Homo sapiens: one gene and its partners. The protein of the gene in region 3 interacts with the protein of the main gene of each other region in a biochemical or structural test. Each region holds a gene or a part of one and is shown on either strand. Other genes may lie near its edges.

The links. The genes of interacting proteins can lie anywhere in the genome.
Region 1: the proteins of CYSLTR2 (region 3) and DLG3 interact in a test that uses a peptide from one of them, tested with the Homo sapiens proteins (2 studies listed by IntAct, with this or other methods).
Region 2: the proteins of CYSLTR2 (region 3) and MPDZ interact in a test that uses a peptide from one of them, tested with the Homo sapiens proteins (2 studies listed by IntAct, with this or other methods).

Annotation. Positions count from the first base shown.
Region 1 is NC_000023.11:70,489,825-70,496,847, forward strand, and holds part of DLG3 (disks large homolog 3), read left to right. Parts: intron 1-2,282; coding exon 2,283-2,459; intron 2,460-2,696; coding exon 2,697-2,772; intron 2,773-3,551; coding exon of another isoform or gene 3,552-3,651; intron 3,652-5,583; coding exon 5,584-5,629; intron 5,630-7,023. UniProt on the Homo sapiens protein: Required for learning most likely through its role in synaptic plasticity following NMDA receptor signaling.
Region 2 is NC_000009.12:13,276,680-13,284,196, reverse strand, and holds the start of MPDZ (multiple PDZ domain protein), read left to right. Parts: upstream 1-4,504; 5' UTR 4,505-4,797; exon of another isoform or gene 4,798-5,167; intron 5,168-5,439; exon of another isoform or gene 5,440-5,785; intron 5,786-7,425; exon of another isoform or gene 7,426-7,517. UniProt on the Homo sapiens protein: Member of the NMDAR signaling complex that may play a role in control of AMPAR potentiation and synaptic plasticity in excitatory synapses. Promotes clustering of HT2RC at the cell surface.
Region 3 is NC_000013.11:48,649,153-48,656,938, reverse strand, and holds the start of CYSLTR2 (cysteinyl leukotriene receptor 2), read right to left. Parts: upstream 3,011-7,786; 5' UTR 2,922-3,010; intron 1-2,921. UniProt on the Homo sapiens protein: Receptor for cysteinyl leukotrienes. The response is mediated via a G-protein that activates a phosphatidylinositol-calcium second messenger system.

The DNA.
Region 1 (7,023 bases), on a different chromosome or scaffold from region 3:
AAATTCATCCTAACTCCCCTAATTCATTTTATTTTATTTATTTATTATTTATTTTTTAGACAGAGTCTCGCTCTGTCACCCAGGCTGGAGTGCAGTGGCGCAATCTCGGCTCACTGCAACCTCTGCCTCCCAGGTTGAAGCAATTCTCCTGCCTCAGCCTCCCGAGTAGCTGAAATTACAGGTGCCCGCTACCATGCCCGGCCAATTTTTGTATTTTTAGCAGAGACGGGGTTTTGCCATGTTGGCCAGGCTGGTCTCGAACTCCTGACCTCAAGTGATCTGCCTGCCTCAGCCTCCCAAATTGTTAGGATTACAGACGTGAGCCACCGCGCCCGGCCTCCTAAATTCATTTTAACATCTTCCTTCCTTCTCTCACCAAACTAATTTGTGCTTAATTCAAGTTCTGTTCTTTTCCTTACTATATTTGTTCTAATCTTTGAAACCCATAATGACATCCAGTGTTTCTCATTGTCACTGAGAATGAGGTTGCTTCATGATGCTCTTCTTAGTAGGAGTGGCTGACAGAATGTCTTCCTTGCTTTAGGAAATGCAGGACTCAGGCAGTGAGAATGCATTCAGTTTTGATTCTGTCACACATAGCCCGGAATGCACCTCTCGGACAGCACCTCCTTGTCTGCTGCCTCTGCCATTCTCCTTACTGCTTTGAGTGTGTAAATTGAGGGGAAAAAAGGGCTTTTTGTTAGAGTTTGGGTATTTTCATTTTCAAATCATCTGACGCTGATTTTTAAGAACTCTGTTTCAAGAGCTGTAAGCAGTAGGTGAGTATTTCACTCTTCATGGTTTTACTACATCCTATCTCATTTGGGCTTGCATATGGTAAGATAGTGTGTTTTACTTGCAGCTTCCAACTGAGCCAAAGGCCACAGTATTGCAGGTAGAAGTCAAAGTCTTGGAACTAGATTTTGGGCTGTGTGTGCAAAGGTGTGAAAACACCTTATTAACAGAGAATATGAAGAAGACAGCCTAGATTGCAGGTAGAAAAATACAAACTTCTCACTGAAATCACCCATTTGTGGTGACTCCATATGAAGACAGGTTCCACTGGATGTGAAAAGTAGAAACTTTTTTTTTGGCTTTTTTTTTTTGAGACAGAGTCTTGCTCTGTCGCTTAGGCTGGGGTGCAGTGTCGTAATCTTGGCTCACTGTAACCTCCACCTCTCAAGTTCAAGTGATTCTCCTGCCTCAGCCTCCCGAGTAGCTGGGACTGCAGGCATGCAACATCACACCCAGCTAATTTTTGTAGTTTTAGTAGAGATGGGGTTTCACCATATTGGCCAGGCTGCTCTTGAACTCCTGACCTCAGGTGATCCACCCGCCTCAGCCTCCCAAAGTGCTGGGATTACAGGCGTGAGCCTCTGCGCCCGACCTCCTAAGGCTCTTTTGATGTGTCACTCCTCTCAGATTTCCAGGGGCCACTAGATCTTGTCTATTCAAGGGCTTCCAAAATTTGCTTCAGACCTTTATTTCCAATACCATTTCCTAGGACTTCTAGCATCAGCCAAGCTGGTGTCCTTTTCCATAAGCCTGGATTGTATAGCTCCCTCCCCACCTTCTCCCACCTTCCCTTTTATTTCTTTACTCTGCATCATTTATAGCATGTCACAACAGCATGTCTTGTCAGAAGACCTGGGTTTTGTCCCAGGTTGGTTAGATGTATGACCTAGGTCAAACTATTTTTTCCTCCCTGAACCTCTGTTTCCCCATATGTAAGAGAAAGAGACCGCACTAGGTGACTTCTATGGTCCCATTGGTCTTTTCAACCCTACCATTCTGTGCTTTTTCTTTGGCTGCCCGAGGACATAGGGCCCTTTCTTTAGTGCTTCAGGAGTGTTTACCAGTCATTGTTTGGGATTGTAGTTAACATTTTTTGTCCTCTCTTTAGCTACTTTTTGAAGATATGTTTGTGAACTGAGAAAGCGCCCTGCTAGAGCTAGTTTCCTAGGATGTGGGTGAGGGAGAGGGCTATTGAGCGAGTTCTACTTTGGACTTTTATCTTGCATCCAGAAGCCAAGAGGAGATGGGGTTTGTAAAATATTTTCTCTTATGCTTCTTATTGGGAGAATGAGATGTTTCTTTGAAAGCGGGTGCATATTTACCACTTTGGCTCAGAAAGAAGGATGTGGTCTCCTGGAGACATCCTTCTAGTATACTGTGAGGCTGCTATGTCTGTGCTGTTTGGGTTGGCCTTCCATCTTTTCAAGGTGCCAGTGTCTTGGCATTTAGGGTTGGATGATCACTTCATCTTTCACTGTGCCTTTCAGGGCCCTGTTTGATTATGATCGGACTCGGGACAGCTGCCTGCCAAGCCAGGGGCTCAGCTTCTCTTATGGTGACATTCTGCATGTCATTAATGCCTCTGATGATGAGTGGTGGCAGGCAAGGCTGGTGACCCCACACGGAGAAAGTGAGCAGATCGGTGTGATCCCCAGTAAGAAGAGGTGAGTCGTCATGATCATGAGCAAGGCCTTTCCTGCCCTCTTGCTGGTATTTCTTTCTTGTTTTCCTATTAGAAGTTGCTTGAGAGCAACGTTTGTGCCTTGATTCCTTTTTGGTAGAGTCGGTACTCAACATGGTTTTTACTCAGTGAGCCAAAAAAATGGCTGCTGTGCCTGCTGCAACCCACTGCTGAGACCATTTACTGGCAGTAACAGGACTTCTTTCTGATTCCAAAACAGGGTGGAAAAGAAAGAAAGAGCTCGATTGAAAACTGTGAAGTTCCATGCCAGGACGGGGATGATTGAGTCTAACAGGGTAAGTGGGGATCCCCAAGGAAATCAGCCAGTAGGTAAAGAGGGTTGAGAAGCCTGGAGTTTAGTCTGATGTGTAGGAGAACTGGGGAACACAAAAGAAAATCTCTTTTTCAGGGGGCTGGCTCTGTCCTATCAGAACATTGACTGCTTTTCAGAAAGCAGAGAGGGAGCTCTTAAAGTTCACAGCCAGTCTGTGCTCCTTTCCCCTGGGTACCGGCTCTTGAAGATGTGTTAGAGTTGGACTGTCTGGAAGGCTGACTTGCTTGGGGAAAATGAAACCACTCGTGGGTGTCTCCCTGGCTATAGATCCTGTCAGAGCATCCGGCCAAGAAGCCCAGCTCCAGAGCTCCCACCTCCCTTCAGACCACCTGAGGCAGGCGGGTTCTCCATTCACCCCTTTTTTTCTATGAGCTTCACAGGCCAAAGAACTTCTGGAGCAGTAGAGGGAAGAGAGACGTGGAGTAGATGTGTATATCAGTGGTACCTTAGGGCATGTGTCCAGGAGGCTACAGTGACCTTTGTTCTTTAGGAAGTACCAGTGAGTGTTATGAGTGTCTGGATTATGTAGAAACTTCTAACATCCCTACAACATTTTCTTGTAAACATAATTTTCCTCTTACATCAACTTTCATTTAATCTCATAGACTCCATTTGTGAGAGATGGTCTTTTATTTAGCTCACCGTTGTCTCCATTTTAGTTTTTCTTGCATGCTTTAAAATCCATTGTTCTGTTTTTTTTTTTCTTCTGTCCTTCCCCTCCATCTTCATGTTCTTTCACAGTCGATCAAAACGAAACGTAAAAAGAGTTTCCGCCTCTCTCGAAAGTTTCCATTTTACAAGAGCAAAGAAAACATGGCCCAGGAGAGCAGCATACAGGAACGTAAGTAGCAGCAGAGTCCAGAGAGCAGGCCATCTGCAGCCCCATCCTCTCATCCTCAGTTGCCCTTCCCTCGAGAGAAGCCTGGGCAGGGCCACGTGTGGCCTCGTGCCTGCCTGTGTGCGTGTGCACCTGCTTATCTACAGAGTCAGGGCAGAAACTGGTCTGCCTAAGGAGATGTTGGGTTTTATTTGTCCTGCTCCTCAGTTAGAATGAATGTTGGAGGCACTGAGGTGGGACTGGTCCCAGGGTCAGCCTCCAGGAAGTGCCTGGCACTAGCAGTGGAAGTGCCAGACAGAGCTCTGCTGTGGTGGTGAGGAACGGTTTTTTAGCTAGACTGTCAGGGTCAGGAAAATGGTTTTTCAAGAGAACAAGGTCTAGGGACTCAGTGTTGCTCTCCTGGTTTCTTCCTCTTGTGTTTTCTTTCCCTTAACTTCACTCATGTATGTCAAGAGAAGAGCCTTTTCTTCCCAGGATCCCTGGAGTTGGGGCTACTTCTGGAATCCCATGCACGTGCATAAGCATACAGGATATCCACACAACTCTCAGCAGACTCGCTGTCATCCTAGAGTGCCTACAGAGCCAGTTTTCCCAGGAGAATCCTTCCTGCTTAAATGAGTTGACATGGAAGGAGTGTTGCTCCACATTGTTCAAATAAAGATCTATTGAGAAACACAAAGTTGGTTCGGTAGGAAGAGCAGTCACACTGAGCTAAATTCAACGGAAGAAGAAATTTAATCCTGATAAATCTTCTTGCTCTACCGTGTGCCTCAGCAATTAACTGCTCCAACCTTAACCTTAAACACCAGGTCTGGCTTGAAAAATGTCTTCTCACTTGTCTCATCATGAACAGTAAACATCTCTCATTTACCAGTGACTCCTCTGTCTTACATGGAGGGATCTTGGGGTCTTGGTCTATTGGGGCTGGCAGGAGACTGACTGGTTCTGATAGGAAATGTCCTTCTGTCAGGCCAGCTTGGTCCACAGTCATGGTATGTGTAAGTCATTGCTATCTGGGGTGGTACCTGGTGGACAGAAGGGTGCCCTCATCTAGATGGCAGCCACGGCTCATCATCCTGGAGTAGTTCAATGAGAAGCCATAGACGGGGTGGCTCTGCTCATGAGCAGTTAGGAGACAGTCTGAGTCAGAGGCCTGAGGTGATGTCACCATAGTTTCATCAGATGAGTCCCAGAGTCCCTCCATGCCAAGCCCAGCCTGGGGAGGTGTTCATTGCTCAGTGGTCCCGCCTGGTGGGCGAGGGGGTATCTACTGGATGACAGAGTTGAAGGTGCCTAGTGCTTCTCCAGAAGCTGAGCTCATCCCCCAAGATCTGTCCAGCTCAGGGCAGCTTTGGAGGCCACACTCTACACCATGCGAAACTTTTCCTGAAGGGTTTGAACAGAGTGAATCAGTATTGGGCAAAGGCTTCTTGAGGTGATGGCAATTCTATCTGCCTACCTGGCACACGCGGACATTTGCTCTTTCACGCACTGCAGAGGGAAATGGTGATTTCAGGGGCAAACAGAGACCTGGGCTCCACAACCAAAATTTAGTCAAAGCAGGTGCTCTAAGCCTTGGAGTGTCACCTGTCCTGTCCCATTGGCCTACAGCTGTAGACACCTCAGAAAGCTAGTCTACTCCAAGGCCCTCTGGCAATGAATTGGGCAGCATGAAGTCTTGATGTCTTATCTGCCCTGGGATGTTCTTTCTGTGGCAAAGTTCCTGGCCTCACTATAGTGCTAGGTCTTCATGGTGTTTCATAATTCTGTCACTAGTGCTCACCTACCTCTGTATTCTTCCTCCCCCCTTGTCTTTTTCTCTATTTTTTCTCTTCTCCCCAAATCTCTCCCTCTCTTCCATTCCCTCCCATCCCTTCCCCTTCCCCCCTCTTCTCCCCGTCGTCCTCTCTCCGCCCTTGCTGTCTGTGAAATCAGGACTTCCCGGGGTTAAGTGACGATTATTATGGAGCAAAGAACCTGAGTAAGTCCAACTTACACACCGTTCACTGTACTTGTGGCATGAATGGAGATAGTGGGGGTGGGGCTATTGGGGACATGGGTGAGGGTGAAGGGTGAGGGGAGGGCAGTGTTTGTGAGCACTCTGACATCACAGCAGGAAGAAGTGCATGTGGCTCCATATGTTACATGTTTGCTATGGATCCCTAGTACCCAAATAAGTCCATATCATTCATGCCTTTGTTTACCTTTTGCTACTCAAAGTGGGAGGGCGTGAGCATGGCATCCCACCTTAGAAGTGAAGTAAGCTTGAAATGTTTCTCCAAGGTAACCACTCAGCTAATCTCTAGCCTATTGTCGAAGGGAGGGGTGCCTGCTGGTTGGATTCTTCTCCCAGTGATACCACGCTAAAGAATTGGGTGTAGGAATTGCAGCTGTTAACAGTCCTCTAACTAGGGGCAAGGGTACTGTGACCCCTTTTTCCCAACCTGCATCTGAGATGTCCCAGCAGATCCCGGGCCTCAGCAAACAGCCACTGTTTGGCTTCCCACAGAGCACCTGTAAGGGGTTGAGCTGGTCTGCTAGGGGCCTCAGCATCATTTATGGACCATATATAGTTAGTGCTTTATCTCAGGAAAACTCCAACCTCATTTTCCTTTCTGGAAAAGAATCCTGGAGTGGAAAATGAAAAAGACCTAGATGATGAGGCCTTAGTGGCCATCCTGCTGCGTGCAAGGGTGCACAGACACCAAATGGGTTCTATCAGCATATACTCTCCTTCAATAAATAATACAGACCAAAGGCAAAGGAGTTGCCCATGGGGATTGTTCAGGAACTAGCCATGTGTGGCAACTCAGCCAGTCCTTTCTGGGTGGGGGGGCCACAGCATATCATGGTCTGGAACAGTGTGGTCTTGGCTGAAATGAGCAGCATCTCTCTCCATAGTTTGGTGTGTCCATGTCTCATCTTCATTCGCGTGTCATCTTGGATGGGCGGGCTTTGTTTGTGCCTCCTACGAGCGCTGCTCCTCCGCCTGAGCTTTCTTTTCCCTCACCACTAAGAGATGGGCAGATCCCAGCTGTGTGAGACAGGAGGGCTGCCTTGTCCTCAAGGTGTTTTTGTTGGTTTTGTTGTCTGTGTTTTGACATATGTGTCTGGTGGTGGATGGAGATGCTTCCCCTCTCACCACTGAAGCCAGGCTCTCCTGCTTTGGAGTGGTGGCAGGAAGGCTGGGGAGCCCACCGAATGGTCAGAGCAGCGCTCCCTGGTGTCTGCTTAACCCATCCAGCGTTTGGCCTCTTAGTTGTGGAGTGCCACATGGTTCTGTACTTCAGGGGCTCTGTTGGGCGGGGGACACCCATGAGCAGACTGGTCCCTGGACTTCTCTTTGCTCCTGTCACTGTCTTTTCTTTCCTGTTG
Region 2 (7,517 bases), on a different chromosome or scaffold from region 3:
CACACTGCTCACTGCCTCATTATTAAATATAAACAGACCATCCACGATTACCAGACTTTCAAGGACCCAATATAAACAAACATTAGAGGAAGAAGAAAAGCTAGATACATAGGGACAGAGGTATACTGGATTATAATTATGGTAGAATCACACAGACTGTAAGAAAATCTCATCTCTAGAGCTGCATCCTCTGAAATGACCTTTTGTTTCTGTGTGTTTGTGTTGTGACCAGAAAGATGTCACATTTTCTGTGAGACCTGGCTGTTCACCAGTGGAAACTCATGTTTTCCTTATATTCCTAGTTATCCTTTAATAAGCTCCGACTGAGGTAATCTCAGTGTGTTCCTTGAAACTTAAAAGTACCTGTCTAGCTCACTGTGAATGGCTTAATATGTGTATTTCATCAGTTTGAATGCTTTTAGTTACAAACAACAGAAAACTCAATTCAAACTAGTTTAAGAACTAAAAAAAATTTATTGGCTCATACAAGTGGAAAGACAAGAGGTGGAGTGGGCTTCAGGTAAGACATAATCCACTGACTCAGTGGTGTTTTCAATAGCTCAATTTTTTCCCCTCTGTTCTTTCTGCCATCATGAAGGGGGAGTATTACCTAAAAGATACTATGCAACTTGAACAAATTCTTTTCACTATTGTTATTGTTTTTCTTGATTTTCTTTTTGGATAACTCACTTATGCCCTCAGAGTATGCATAACAGGGAAGATATTTTGTAAGATAGTTCAAAATGTCATTCTAGCTGGCATAAACTTGAGGCACAGATTCTGGAACAGTTTGGATGTGTTTCTTCCTAAAATTAACCTGGCCCCAATGCTTTCTCCTGGAATTTCCTTATAGAGTTAGAATTTTGTGGGTACAAATGCAAATGAATTCAAGGTCAGAAGGTCATGACCTCCCAATGCCCTTTCTTTCATGCTTAGAGAGATGAGGCCTAATCAGACACACTGGAGATTTCAGAGCCTTTATCTCTCTATAAACAGTTTGTTATATGAAGAGAGACAGATTACTCTGTATGTTCTCAAAAGAGAAATAATTTTTACATTTTTCTCATTCCTGGGATTCTCTCTTAGTCATTCTCTCCCCCTAATGGCTTTCTCCTAGACACATATATATCCATTATCCTAATGTTCTTCTCTTTCTTCTTTATCTTCTTTTTTCAACCTTGACTTCTTTTCAATGGAGAGAAAAAATTAAGGATTATTTAAAATGCTTTTTAACATTGAACAAACTGAAAAAAAATTTATCTGAACTCTTCTTTTAATTGAGACATCTGAGGCAAATTGAAACCATAAAGTCAGTCAGCCAGTAGACAACATAAAAAATCTACAAACTATAATAAACTAAAACTGCACAGTTGTTATATATTAGATATCCCTTAGGTAGAGGGACTGGCAAGCATGCCATCTAGTTTGCATTTAAATGCTGCATTATTAATAAGAGTCACTGCTGGCTAAAGGTGATAAAAATAGCCCATCACCCCACTATTAGGATTACCCCAAATCAGTCCTTGGGAAAGGATTTGGTTCATAGAGTTCTAACCCTGCAGTTCTGTAGTAACATCTCCCAGCATGGGGGTCTCACCTACGTCTTGGCTATCTGCTGTTAAAAAGCAGAATGAAGACTGTGTGCTCAGCAGGCAACTAAAAGAATCCTCTGTTATTTTGGTGGATCAAAAGTTTAATTTCCAGGATCTGTCTTTTCAGCAGCCGTTAAAGGTTTTGAGTAGATAACCCGGGCCTTTCACTAGTTTTAGAGTTGGAGAGGAGCCACAAATGTAAAATAATATCATATACATAGTTTATATTTGTACTGTTCAATTATGATGAACAATAAATAATAAACCAACAATAATAATTTAAACCAATCTCAGAAGTTTCCAGGACTTTTTCCCTTATAAAAGTCCTCTGAATATGACTCAAATTTGAGAAAAACAAATTATTGTGGAGAATGCCTCACTGAGGATATAGGTGGAATGACCCCAGAGCCTGTATTAACATGAAATAGAAAGCATTATTAATCTATTTACGTATGGGGTTTCAAGCCATCCCATAGAGTAGAGCACCTCTACTCTATCTGCTTTACACTTTGTCTTTCTCTGCAAGATTTTATTTCAACTTTAATGTTTTTAACTTTTATTTTAGGTATTTTTTTTTAAACTAGTGCACTATATCCCCGGTGGATTTCTAGAAAATCTTAGGTTTTCTGGATTAGAACAAGTTAAAGAGAATAGAGCAATAGCTATACGGATTAACTTCAAAAGGAGAAGCTTCAGGGTGGAATTATCCCCAAACTCTGGATAATTTTATGCAAGGACTAATCTAAACCAGATGCCTTTTTATCCTCTGATATACTGCTGTTTAAAGAGGGCATGTGGGCTTTGCTTCGCTAAAGGAGACTAGAACAATAGCACCTTTTAAACCAAGGTAAAATTATTTGTTTTAATCTCATTTATCCACAATAAACCAGGGAATTAAATTTCTAAAACTTTCCTCTAATTCAGTTTTATGGGCTCTTTCCCTATGGTTCAATATAAAAAATGCCATTTAAAATTTTAGGACTCAAAGAATTCCTTCAGTAGCTAGTTATGAAATTCTTTTCCTCCTACACTACCCCAGCAGCTAACATTTCATGCACGTACTTCCTTTGTATTTGAGAATGACCAGATTTGAAAACTGACAAGTAGAAGTGCTATTCAAACAGGAGGATCCCTTTGGAATTTCTAAGCAATAAGAAAATCCTTTCCAAATGGGATGCCTTGAGGTGACTCTATGACAAGAACACAAAAGTTATATGGAGAAATTATTCATTCTTGCAGTCGTATATTCATCCTATTTCATATGAGTGCCAACCAAGTGTGAAGTTTTTACTAGGCTCTGAGGATAAAATGGTGACTTAGCCCCTGTTCTCATGGAGTTTATGGTTGAAGAGGGAAGAGACATTGCATAATTACAAAATCAAATGCATATTTACAAAGTAGGAAAAATATTATGAAGCAAAAGCATAGGGTACCATAAGAATGCATCACAATGGGTTTATCGTAGTTTGTGGGAATCATGTAGCATCTATGGCAGTTCCATTCACTGGGACACTGAACAAGATGACCAGGCTTGAGCAGAAGTATCACGGCTGCATTTTTTTTTGCAATCTAGGTTTGAGACAAGCAAACAGGGAAGCCAAATAAACACTTGAATATATGGATAAATCTGAAGGTATAAATGTAAGATTCTGTAGGTACGAGATCATAAGCTAGAAGTGAAAATGTATTTAGAGGTAAGAGTTAAAAGGAAAAGAGGGCCCGTAACTGATTTTTAAGGAATTCCAGCATCTAAAGATTGGGGGAGAGGAGGCAAAGAAGACTGAAGAGTGGCCTGGGGACAGGGGCAGATCTACCTGGAAATTGATGTAGCTTAACGTTCCGGGTCCTTCTCTTGCCTGGGAGCAACCCTAGCAATGTGTTTACATGGGCATTTATTTTTTGAATTTTTCTAAAGAAAGATTTTTTTTTTTTTTTTGGTTAAAGCAGAGCTCCCAATTGTACAAGCTTCAGAGCCCATACATCCGCCCTTGACTAAGCGGAAGAAGCAAAACCAAGAGTGTGATTGCATGGAATTACAAGAGGGGTGGGGTGGGGAGGACTCTAGGAAGAGAGAGGTCAACAGCTGTGAATGTGTTTGAAAGTCCAAGGAATATGAGAAAAAAGTATTTTTATTCAGAATATTAAAAGAAATTCTTTTAAATGTTCTAAATTGGACTTCTGAGTATCCTTTGGTCCTATAATCTAATATCAGAGGGATATTTTGAAAAAGAGTTTCTTATGCAGAAAAAAATTCGTGGGACTTCCAAATTGAGGATAACAGAAAGAAAATCTTAAGTGGCACAAAATAGAAATGAATATCTGTTCTTCCTGGGGCCATGCAACTCTAATAACTTTTCCATGTTTACTGTTTTTGCTTTTTAATTGGATCATCAGACTAAGAATGCACCCTGATGTGCGAAAAGTTACTTAGAAAGTGAGAGGACTGCCCCCACCCTTCTGATTAAAGCGCTTCTCATAAGCATCCTATGCCATTCAGTAAGCTACCCATGCAGAAAGCATCCACAGGGCAGTGCACATAAGGAAAATCTGAGGAGCTAGAAACAGGCTATCAGTTTCCGCAGGTTGACAAAATCGGCAGATAAAAATACAAGACTGCCATTAAATTTGAATTTCCGATAAACAACGAAGAACTTTTTAGCATAAGTACGTCCCAAATATTGCATGGGATATACTTGTACTAAAATTATTCCTTTTTTTTTTTATTTGAAATTCCCATTTAACAGAGCAGCCTATATTTTATCTGACCACCTCACAAGTCCACTACCCACACCCCAGGTCGAGCGGCCCAGGAGCGAGTTTAAAACCCCGCACAGGCCTGCTCGGCCGCGTCCCCTGATTGGCCAAGGCGCGCCCGCCGCCCCGCCGGTCGCAGGCGTCACGGCAGCCCCAGCAGCCTGGGCCCCGCCACCGCCTCCGCGGCAGCCCCGGTCGGCGCAAGTGCGGCGCGCGCTGGGGGAGGGGGCGCGGCGGAGCGCTAGGCTGGCGTCGGGCCACCGCGGGATTAAGTTTCTCAGTCACGCGTGAGTGTCTGTGCGTTTTGATCCGAAGCTCCTCGCCGGGTCGTTACTTCAGAAGAGAAGACAGTGAGCGTGGGCGAGGCGAGGCATCCAGAGGCCCCGGCGACCCCTGCTCCCCAGTCCTCCGCCCCCTCGCGTCGCGGCCCTGGGCGGGCGCCGCGAGCCGGGTAAGCGGCGCTTGAGCCCCGGCCCAGAGGCCGAGGCGCGCCCCCGCGCCCTGCGCGCGCGCCGGCGGGGAAGGTGCGCGGGCGCCCTGGGCTCGGCGCTTGGGGGTGGGGGTGGGGGCGGGGATGGGGGTGGGGGTGGGGGTGGGGGTAGGGGTGGCGGCGGGCCGTGGGGCGGTGGGGCGGTGCGCTTGCCCCACCCCGCGCGGCCCGGCGCTTCGCGGAAGCCGCTGCTGTGGCTTTTTTAAAAGGATGGGGTCTAGAAGTTTCCTTTGCTACTCGCAAGTCTCCACTCCCCCCAGCCCCGCGGTGGATAATCCTAGACCTTTCAGCACCCCCGCCACCCCTTTCTTTTGCTCTCGCTGACTAAGAGGTTTAAAAGTTTTTCCTTTTCCTTGACCCAGAGGGGCACAGTCTTGGTGTCGGGGGGCTGGGGGTGGGGTGTTAGCCTGGGGGCCCGGAGCGCAGACCAGGCCTCCAGGGCGCGGGAGCCTGTTGCTCTCCCCTGCAGGGGCCGCTCCCGGACGCCCCATCCGCCGTTACGTGGTCCCGGGATGTGCGGGTTGCGGTAGAGAGTGGGCAGCAATGCTCCTGGTCCTGCGTTCTCGCCTTAGCCGCGGGGACCCCGAGGCGAGCCGCTAATTGGTACCGGTGCCCCGTCCCTCACCCCTGGCACCGGCGCCCTTTTAACCGCCGCTCCCGTTGGTGGGAGCACGTTGGTCTTGTCTCTCCCTTAGTCTCCTCACCCCCCGCGCTGATGGGCGTCTTTGTCTGCGATTTGGCAGCCCCAGGATGCCGGATGTTACCAGGGAAGCGATGTTTGGGAGACGCTTTGTGTCTTGCGGAGTTGCGCGTTTGTTGGGTGGTGATGGTGTACATTTTTGTTTGCGTTCTTTGCAGAGGCACAAAGGCTGGGCTATTCTTGCCTGCAGTCACATGGAAATCAAGCGGAGACTGCGGGGGAGGAGAAGTGGCCAGGCGCCGGCGGGAGGTAGAGGCCGCTCCGTAGTCACTGGGGGCGAGTGGGGGCCCCTGGAGACCTCTACTGCGCGGTGCGGCTTTTGAGGTGCTCCGCTTGGGAAGACCCCGGCAATGGGCACTGACTGCCTTTTTGCAGTAGGGGCTGCGGTTGGAGGCTAGTGTTTCCTAGGTATCATCAGATAGATAAGAGGACCATGACTTCACCAGCGTAGAAGGAAAACTTCTCCATGTTCCTTGATGTCATAGAGAAGGAATCTGATAAGTGATCAGACTGCCTCGTCCTGCCTTGTAGACAGTTTGATGTAAACATCCCCTTCGTGTTTCCCTAGAAATTCCTGGTTTAGGTTACCCTTTATAGAATAAATAACACCTTATCTGAAAACTAACGAGGAGGAGGTGATGGTTTCGGGCTTGGGAGTTTTACATGTTGAATTTGGGTATGAGTGATTACAATGAACATCTTGTAATGTTGGAACTATCTAAATTTGTATAATGTATGCCTTAGCACCTGATGGAATTTTGGCAAACAATAGTGTTTTAAAAACCTAGCAAAACTTGGCCAGGCGCAATGGCTCACGCTTGTAATCCCAGCACTTTGGGAGACCGAGGTGGGTGGATCACTTAAGGTCAGGAGTTCAAGACCAGGCTGGCCAACATGGTGAAACCCTGTCTCTACTAAAAATACAAACATTAGCGGAGCGTGATGGCTCGCACCTGTAGTCTCAGATACTAGGGAGGCTGGGGCAGGAGAATCGCTTGAACCCGGGAGGCAGCGGTTGCATTGAGCCGAGATCGCGCCACTGCACTCCGGCCTGGGTGACAGAGCGAGACTCTGACTCAATAAATAAGTAAATAAATAAAAAATAAAAATAAAAGCCTAGCAAAACGTTCCTTGACTTGATCTTCTAATACAATACTAAGCTTTGGATGGAGGCACCTGTACCCTTGTGTGCAATGTAGGCAAAACTAGTTTTGGGTACCCCTTGACTCTCCGTTCTTCTTCCCTATCTCATTTGCCAAAACAAACAAACTAATGAAGATTATTCTCAACATATTACTAATAGATTATGGTGTACCTTATTTCTTACATATGTTCCTTTTTTTTTCCTTTGATCCTTTCTGTGTTTATTCTTTTCACTTACCTTCTCTAGTTCTGGTTTTCTTTGTCCCTTTACCACACTCCTTTTTATTGACTAGGCCTGAAGGTTGTGGCTTGGAAAGGGAGGGATCTTTAGTCAATTTTTAGTGTGCTTCAAAGTCCTATCACCTAGACATTGCTCTGCTTGACCCTTAAAGACATCTTTCCTTTTCAGATGCATTTAAATGTACCTAACTGTGAGGAATAGAGGCTGGTCTCAGAGTTTAGTATATTTCTACAAGTTGAAGCTATTCAGAGAGACTCTTGGAAATCCTTGATATGTAACTTTACATGGATTTAGGTCTAGTTGGCCACTTTTAGTTTTTAACTGCTAGGGTGGAGAGATTTTGCTTGACAAATGATCAAGTGAATCCATTGTCTAGAATTGAGATTAAGGGATTTAAAAGCTGGAGAGGAACAATGAATTGCCTGGAAGGTAACTATCCTCACTTAGAGGTAGATTATTTTCTCCAGATTACATCCCAGATCTGACATAGTCTTGTCTCTCTCAGGTTGAGTTGCAGGTTGGCTACATTTTGTATATTTGGAAACGTACAAAGTACTCTGAATTTCATGAAATATTTTGAGGCAAAGTTGGACTGGA
Region 3 (7,786 bases):
GGGTTTCTGACATGGATTTCAAAAAGCTCTCTAGCAACGCTGAGCACCCACAGCAAAATGCTTGCCTTTCTTTGTATTATCCAATTTGGCTGCCGCATTAGCCAGAGTTCATTGGGTAATTGCACAATCCCTTGTGAGGCTTTTATCTTAAAGGCTTACCCTTGGGGAACTAGAGTGCCTCAGATATCTGGTGCACAGAGCAAACTATAGAAAAGCAGAAAGGATCTTTGATTCTGGAGTACACAGGAAATGCTAACGATGCCCAAGGTAACCATCATGTACTCATGTACACAGCAATGAGTACACTGAAAAAATATATCATCTTTCCTCCAAAATGGAGGCTGCTCATGTGATCCCAGGTGGATAGGAGGCAGAGTGATATAATGAATGAAAGCATGTGCTTTTGAGTTAAAAGGGACCTGGGTTTAAGTTTCAACTCTGCCTTTTAGTCTCTTTTATTACTGCAGCCGTCTGAGCTTCAAACTCTCATCTGCCAAAGGAGCACTGGAGTGAGTATTGATGAAAAAAAAATGGATGTTAAGTGATTAACTTGGTGCCCAACACATGTGAAGAGTTCAGTCAGTACTAGCTAACAATCACAATAAGATTTGTGACAATAATGTACAAAACTCAGATAATTAAACAGGAGCCTTCTTTATGGTCAAGTGAAAGAAGATGGGGCCATTTCATCTGGAGAAGAGCCAACCAGAAACACATGAACAATTCTATTTATTTTTATTACACAAGTAGTACACATTCATGGTAAAAAAAAATTACAATGTAATACAAGCTGAAATAAACTTAAATAATGAACTTTACCACCAACCAGACATAGCTAAAATTTTGCATATATGGTTTTTTTATCTTTCTTGAAATATATACAAATATTTTTGAACAAAAATGAGCACACTTATAATGCTGTTTGTATCTTGCTTTTTTCTTATTTCGTGTCATGATCACCTTTCTTTGCCAACTAACAACATCAATGTCATCATTTAACTGGATACAGAATAGCCAATTATATAAACATTATGAAATTTGTTTAACCAATTTCCCACAATAGCTATTATTTAAGTTGTAAGAAAGGACCATGTGCCCTGGGCTCAACCAGATTGGACCAGTTCTGGTTCCACCTGGGAAAGATCCTATGTTCTCTTGGTCTCATCTTTACCATCTTTAAAATAAGAATTACATCCTCCAGTTCTTAAGGCTAGTATGTGGATCAAATGAACTGATGCCTGTAAACATGTTTTGTAAATAGTAAAGTACTATGTGAATGTTTACATTCATTAAAGAAGGTACTAAACAGGTGTTCTCCACTGAGTCAAAACAAGAAGAAATTAGATTAACATGCTGTTGGTCTCATTGGGATGATTCCTAGCCTGTAGCAGGCTGAGTGCAACAGCAAATGCTTCAGTGTGGTTTAGGCGCTGTGGCTCTGTTTTCAGTCCCTGATGGGAGAAACCAGAACGCAGCCCTGGCATAAACTCTATCCACTTTCCTCCTGAGGATATGAGGTCCAGAGAAGGTAAATGCCATGTCTATGTGGCTCCTGAAAGCCAGAGTGAGCCACCTTCTGCCTCCAAATCCAATCCCATCGATCTTCGCTGTGCCCACAGTGTGTTAGTGAACTGGCCAGCTATTAAATGCCCACCTTGTGTTTAATCTTGAAGAGTTTTAAAAGGAAGCCTGGCTGCCTTGGTAGATTCTAGCAGATATGGGCGTGATTCAGATACATTTAGAACACACTTGAGCCTCAACTTCTCTAACTTTTAACCACCGAAGCACTGGAAACAAATCCATCTCTTTAAAACATTAGTAAATCGAAACACAAGTAGATTCTTATCTCAAGAGTTTATGTGGCTGAGTAGATGATAGAAATTTCTAGAAGTCTTATGTTTCCCACAAATTATTTTATAATTTGCATTATTTATGTAGTGTTGAAAGGGAGATTTGGTTGGCTTGCCTTAAATTATACCTCCCTTTCTCCTAATACATATTACTCTCAGGTATATTTCAGAGACAGAAAAATATTTTGAATGACCTAGGTCATCTGTTTTTATGCTGACCACCCATTAGAACCACCTGAGAAGTTTCTGGAAAACAAGATAAAATACTGCAGATGACTCACTGATCTCCAAAAGTTAAGCTTCAGTTATTCTAGGGGTAATTTTCTAATCTCCTCAGAGTCGGGTGATTCTGGCCAGATGTGCAGCCAGGGTTGAGAAACACTGATTAGGGTCCCAGTGGGGTAAGGAACAGATTATATGCTCATGATCTCACATACTCTTTCATTCTCATTGTGCCTCTGAGCAAAACCATTGAAATATATGTGCTCAGATTTAACTTCTTCTACCCCTAAAACAAGACACTGAATGGAAAAAATATATCTTATATAATAGAAGGACCCAAACTATGAAAAAGAGGATAACAGCCAAAAATGGAGGAAGTATAGTAAAGTTCCTCAATGCAATAATATGCAGCAGCTTTAATTTATGATTACAAAGAATTCACAGCAACATGGAAAAACCATAGACTGATATGGAGGAAATGAATACAAACTTGTCCATAGTGTAGGGACGCAACTATGAAAACTAAAGTTATATGTGCATACACACACACACACACACACTCACACACACACACACACACACACACACACACACACACACACACACACACACACAAAGGGACGATCCCCAAAATATCAATAGAGGCTATTTTGGTGGAGAATTTGGCTTCTTTCAACATTTTTATACTTCCACAGTATTTTTTAAACTACCATGTACATGATAGGAAAATAACATTTATAGTAGAACAAAACAAATTTACTTTTAAAAAATTACTCCTCTGACTATTATGTGATCATCAAGTCATGATGCTCAACACTGAATTAACAAAACAAAGATTAAAATGCCCACCTGAAGGTCTCTGTCTTTCAGCTGCCCTGGCTTCTGCTGCCTCTATCTCTCCTGCCTTTCTCCTCCGAGTAATTCAGGTTGCTCATTTCAAAGAAAAGTGAAAGAGCAAATTATATTTATGAACAGTGCCAACCAATAGCAAGCAAGTCAGGAAGTGTAGCAGGTCATCTGTGCTTTTTAGAAGCCATTGTAGATGTTAGTGCAAGCTCCCTTCTCAAGAAGGGTGAAAATTTCCAGTTAGGGGCTATGTCTAAAAAGAAGAAACCTAAAATTGCCCTGCCCCTCTAATGACTGGTTTTTTGTCATTATCTTTCTCAAGAGATCAAGCGGATATGATGGGTTAGAGTCAGGAATTTTAAGTGGCTTTTAGTTCTCCTAAATGGTTTCTGTTTCCATGGCAACAGAAATAGCAACATTGCCTTACACACATAGCACTTTAGACTTTTTTAAAGCACTTCCCTCACTCACTTGCATTTTCAGCTCACTTGCACTCAGGCAGAGACCTTATCCAGTCTGCTGAAAATGTTCTGTCAGAGGTCACCAAAAACCTCCTTGTTGCTTACATAAAAAATCCTTTCTCAGTCCTCACCTTCCTTCCCCTCTTGTTTGCATAGTTGACCATTGCCACTTTCCTGAAACTTTTCCCTTTTTTCTCTGACTTTCCTGGTTCTTTTTCTACCCCTCAGATTGCTCTTCTTTGCCTCTCTTTCTGATGCCTCTTCTTCCACCCCTTTTCTACGTGTGAGCTTTCCCCAGAGGTCTGTGTTCTGACTTCTTCCCTCCTTCTCTTGCTTTTACCTATCTGATCCACAATCATGGCCAAATTTAATGTGGCCCAGGTGGAGCTTTTCTCTTCCTCTCTTAGTCCTGCATCCCCCCATCTACCCTGTCTAAGCAAATGGCACCACAATAATTTAGCCAGTTCATCCATCCATAAACCTAGAAGTCACTTTTAACTTCCCTCTTTCTTCCACCACCCACTTCTGAGCCAACAAGTTCCATTTGTTCTGCCCATAAAATATGTTCCAAATCGAACCATTACTCATCTCTCCATCACTGTTCAAATCCTCGTTTCCTGCATAGAAAGCTGCAGTAACATTAAGCAAGAAAAATAAGTAAAAGGGATCCAAATTGGAAATAAATAAGTAAAATTTTGTCTGTTTGCAAATGATAAAATCTTATATGTAGAAAAACCTGAAGATACCATGCACACACACACACACAAAACCCCAATAGAACTAATAAGCAAGCAAATTGAGCAAAGTTGCAGGACAGGAAATCAATACACAAAAATCAGTTGCATTTATATACACTAACAATAAACAATCCAAAAATGGAAACTAAGGAAACTATTCCATTTATAATAGCATCAAAATGAATAAAATACTTTGGATATATACTCAGTAGTAAGGTTACTGAATCTTGTTGAGATCTCTGCACTCTCATGTTTACTGTAGCACTATTCACAATAGCCAAAATATGGATCACCCGAAATGTTCATCAACAGAAAGATGGATGAAAAATGTGGTATATATTCACAATTGAATACTATTTACTGATTTAAAAAGAACAAAATTTGTCATTTGTGGCAACATGGATGAGCTTGGGAGACATTATGTTAAGTGAACTAAGCCAGGCATAGAAAGATAAATACTGCATGTTCTCACTCACATGTGGAAGCTAAAAAATTTGATCCTATAGAAGTGGAGAGTAGAATAGTGGTTACTAGGGGCTGGGAAGAGTACTTTCTAGGGGTGAGGGTGAGTGGTTTTCTGTGCAGCTTCTTCATGCAGCTGTGGAGAAGGGGCTGGGACCAAGGTTGCTCCTCTGAAGACAAGGTTCTTCCTGGGTCTGGGATTCTATTTCTAGTATTTTATTTATCCCAATTAGAACTCACAGTACACAAATGTTATATTACCATTCTCATCTTTAGGGGGCAAAAAGCTTGAAACAACATTTCATTCTACAAGCAGTCACTATAGATATTCATTCTTCTCCAATAAAAGCCCAATTGGCCAGGCGCAGTGACCTCACGCCTGTAATCCCAGCACTTTGGGAGGCCAAAGTGGGCAGATCACGAGGTCGGGAGTTGGAGACCAGCCTAGCCAATATGGTGAAACCCTGTCTCTACTAAAAATACAAAAATTAGCCAGGCATGGTGGCACGCGCCAGTAGTCCCAGCTACTTGGGAGGCTGAGGCAGGAAAATCATTTGAACCCGGAAGGTGGAGGTTGCAGTGAGCCAAAAAGCCCAATTAATTGACTAATGTTCATCTCATTAAAATGAATAAAGTGGGCTGGATGGAGTGGCTCACCCCTATAACCCTAGCACTTTGGGAGGCTGAGGCAGGAAGATCTCGAGTCCAGAACAGACTGAAAGCAGTCTGAGTGACACAGGGAGACCCCATCTCTAAAAAAAAAAATACAAAAATTAGCTGGACATGGTGGCATGTGCCTATAGTCTCAGCTACTCAGGAAGCTAAAGTGGAAGGATTGCTTGAGCTGGGGATGTTGTGGCTGCAGTGAGCTGGGATCACACCACTGCACTCCAGCCTGGGTGACAGAGCAAGACTGCCTCAGAAAAAAAAAAAAAAGGCTCATGCCTAATCCCAGCACTTTGGTGGGCTGAGGCGGGTGGATCACGAGGTCAGGAGTTCGAGACCAGCCTGGCCAAGATGGTGAAACCCCGTCTCTACTAAAAACACAAAAATTAGCCTGGCGTGGTGACAGGCACCTGTAATCCCAGCTACTTGGGAGGCTAAGGCAGGGAATTGCTTGAACCCGGGAGGCGCAGGTTGCAGTGAACTGAGATCGTGCCACTGCACTCCAGCCTGGGTGACAGAGTGAGACTCTGTCTCCAAAAAATAAAAAATAAAAATAAAAATAAAAAAAATTAAAAACTTTAAAATAAAATAAACAGTGAAAAAAAATCGATCCTACACTCCGAGAGCTAACTTTTGAATATTAGGTTTTCAAGGAGCAGAATATGTTTCAAGAGTATTAGAAAGATAATGAGGGAAATGCTTTCTCCCTACTCCCTGCTTCTGAATCTGTAAACCTCAGAGAAAGGAGAAACCTATTCAAGACTTTCTTTTATTTTTAGGACAGCCTGGGATCTCTAAGCACTCCATAGGCAGTAAATTTGCTGGAGAGTGCCCATTAGACACTCTTTCTTTGTACAATTTGGACAGATGATATAAAGAGATGCAATGTCATTTTAACCGGATTTGTCAGGATGGAGCAAGAAATCATTCATTTAGAGTAGATAGGGAAAGGGTCGATGACTTTAAAAAGAAGATAATCCTAGGGAGCAGAGAAAGGAATAAACACATTATCCTATGTGCTGCTCTTGATGATTTAAAGGAAAACATGGAAGCGTGTTTAATGTATATGGCACACAGAGAACTTCTCCGGAACTTTCAAAGGCCTGCAGAAGTAATCAAGAGATGAGAATCAACTCCAGTTTTGTAGGAGACTTCCAAGTTTGTTCTCAGTTGAACAAAGTGAGTTTAAGAGAATCAGGGCCAGTTTCTTGCTGATTACAGTAATGTACCAGCCACAAGGCCTTTAGTTAGACTTTTAGAGACATAAGCTTGAGTCTAGAGGATATATTCCTATAAGCACAAACCTGTGATTTTCAAAAGATCAGAAGCACTATTAAGTTACTAAGGCATCAGAGACAGTAGTTTGTTTTCATAGTGCAAGGTTAAATACAAAGGAAGAAGTCAGCGTGAATCATGTTTCTATTTAGGTCATTAAGAAAGTGGAAGAACAGGCTGGGCGCAGTGGCTCACGCCTGTAATCCCAGCACTTTGGGAGGCCGAAGTGGGCAGATGACGAGGTCAGGAGTTCAAGACCAGCCTGGCCAACATGGTGAAACCCTATCTCTACTAAAAATACAAAAATTAGCTGGGCATGGTGGCAGGTGCCTGTAATCCCAGCTACTTGGGATGCTGAGGCAGGAGAATCGTTTGAACCTGGGAGGTGAAAGTTGCGGCGAGCTGAGATTATACCGTTGAGCTCCTCAGCCTGGGCAACAAGAGCGAAACTCCATCTCAAAAAAAAAAAAAAGAAAGAAAGGGGAACAATGGAAACAAACTTGAAACCTCATGGAATTTAGAAAGCAACCAACTTTATGTGTAAGAGAGCCTGTTCTGTGATAAGACAGAGAAAAGAATTACGTAGTGTAGTGGGCTACACATTGGCACCAAAGACATGCCCATATTCAAATCCTGGATTCTGTAAATGTGACCTTATGTGGCACAAATGGTGGTTAATTAAGGATCTTGAGGCAACGAGTTTATTTTTCATTATCCAGGTGAGCCCAAAATACAATTACATGTATCCTTGTAAGAGAGACGACAAAGGAGTGTCAACAAGCTCACACAGGGGAGAAGGCCATGTAAAATGATTAAAGTGATGCAGCTATAAGCCAAGGAACACCTGGAGCCACTAGAACTGGTAAATCAATGAAAGACTCCCCCTAGAGCCTTCAGAAGAGGGAGTGCAGCCCTGCTGGCATCTTGATTTCTGACTTCTGCCCTCCAGAACTGTGAGAGAATGAATTTCTGTTGCTTTAATTTAAGCCATCAAGTTTGCAGTACTTTGTTATGGTAGTCCTAGGGAACACATCTACATTTCCCTTCTCCAACCAAGGGAACCCAAAATTCAGGGAGAAAGTTATAAACTTGCCATAAGATAACGCAATAGACTTAACTAATTCATAGTGAGCTTGCATCCTTTTTAGTTTGTTTCGATTTTCAGTCTCTCATATGTAATTCTCCCTTCAAAAAGAACAATTTAGCTTCCCAAGCAGTGTCAGCTCTCTGGAGAGGTGATGAGGCTGGAGTGAGCATTAATGTCCGC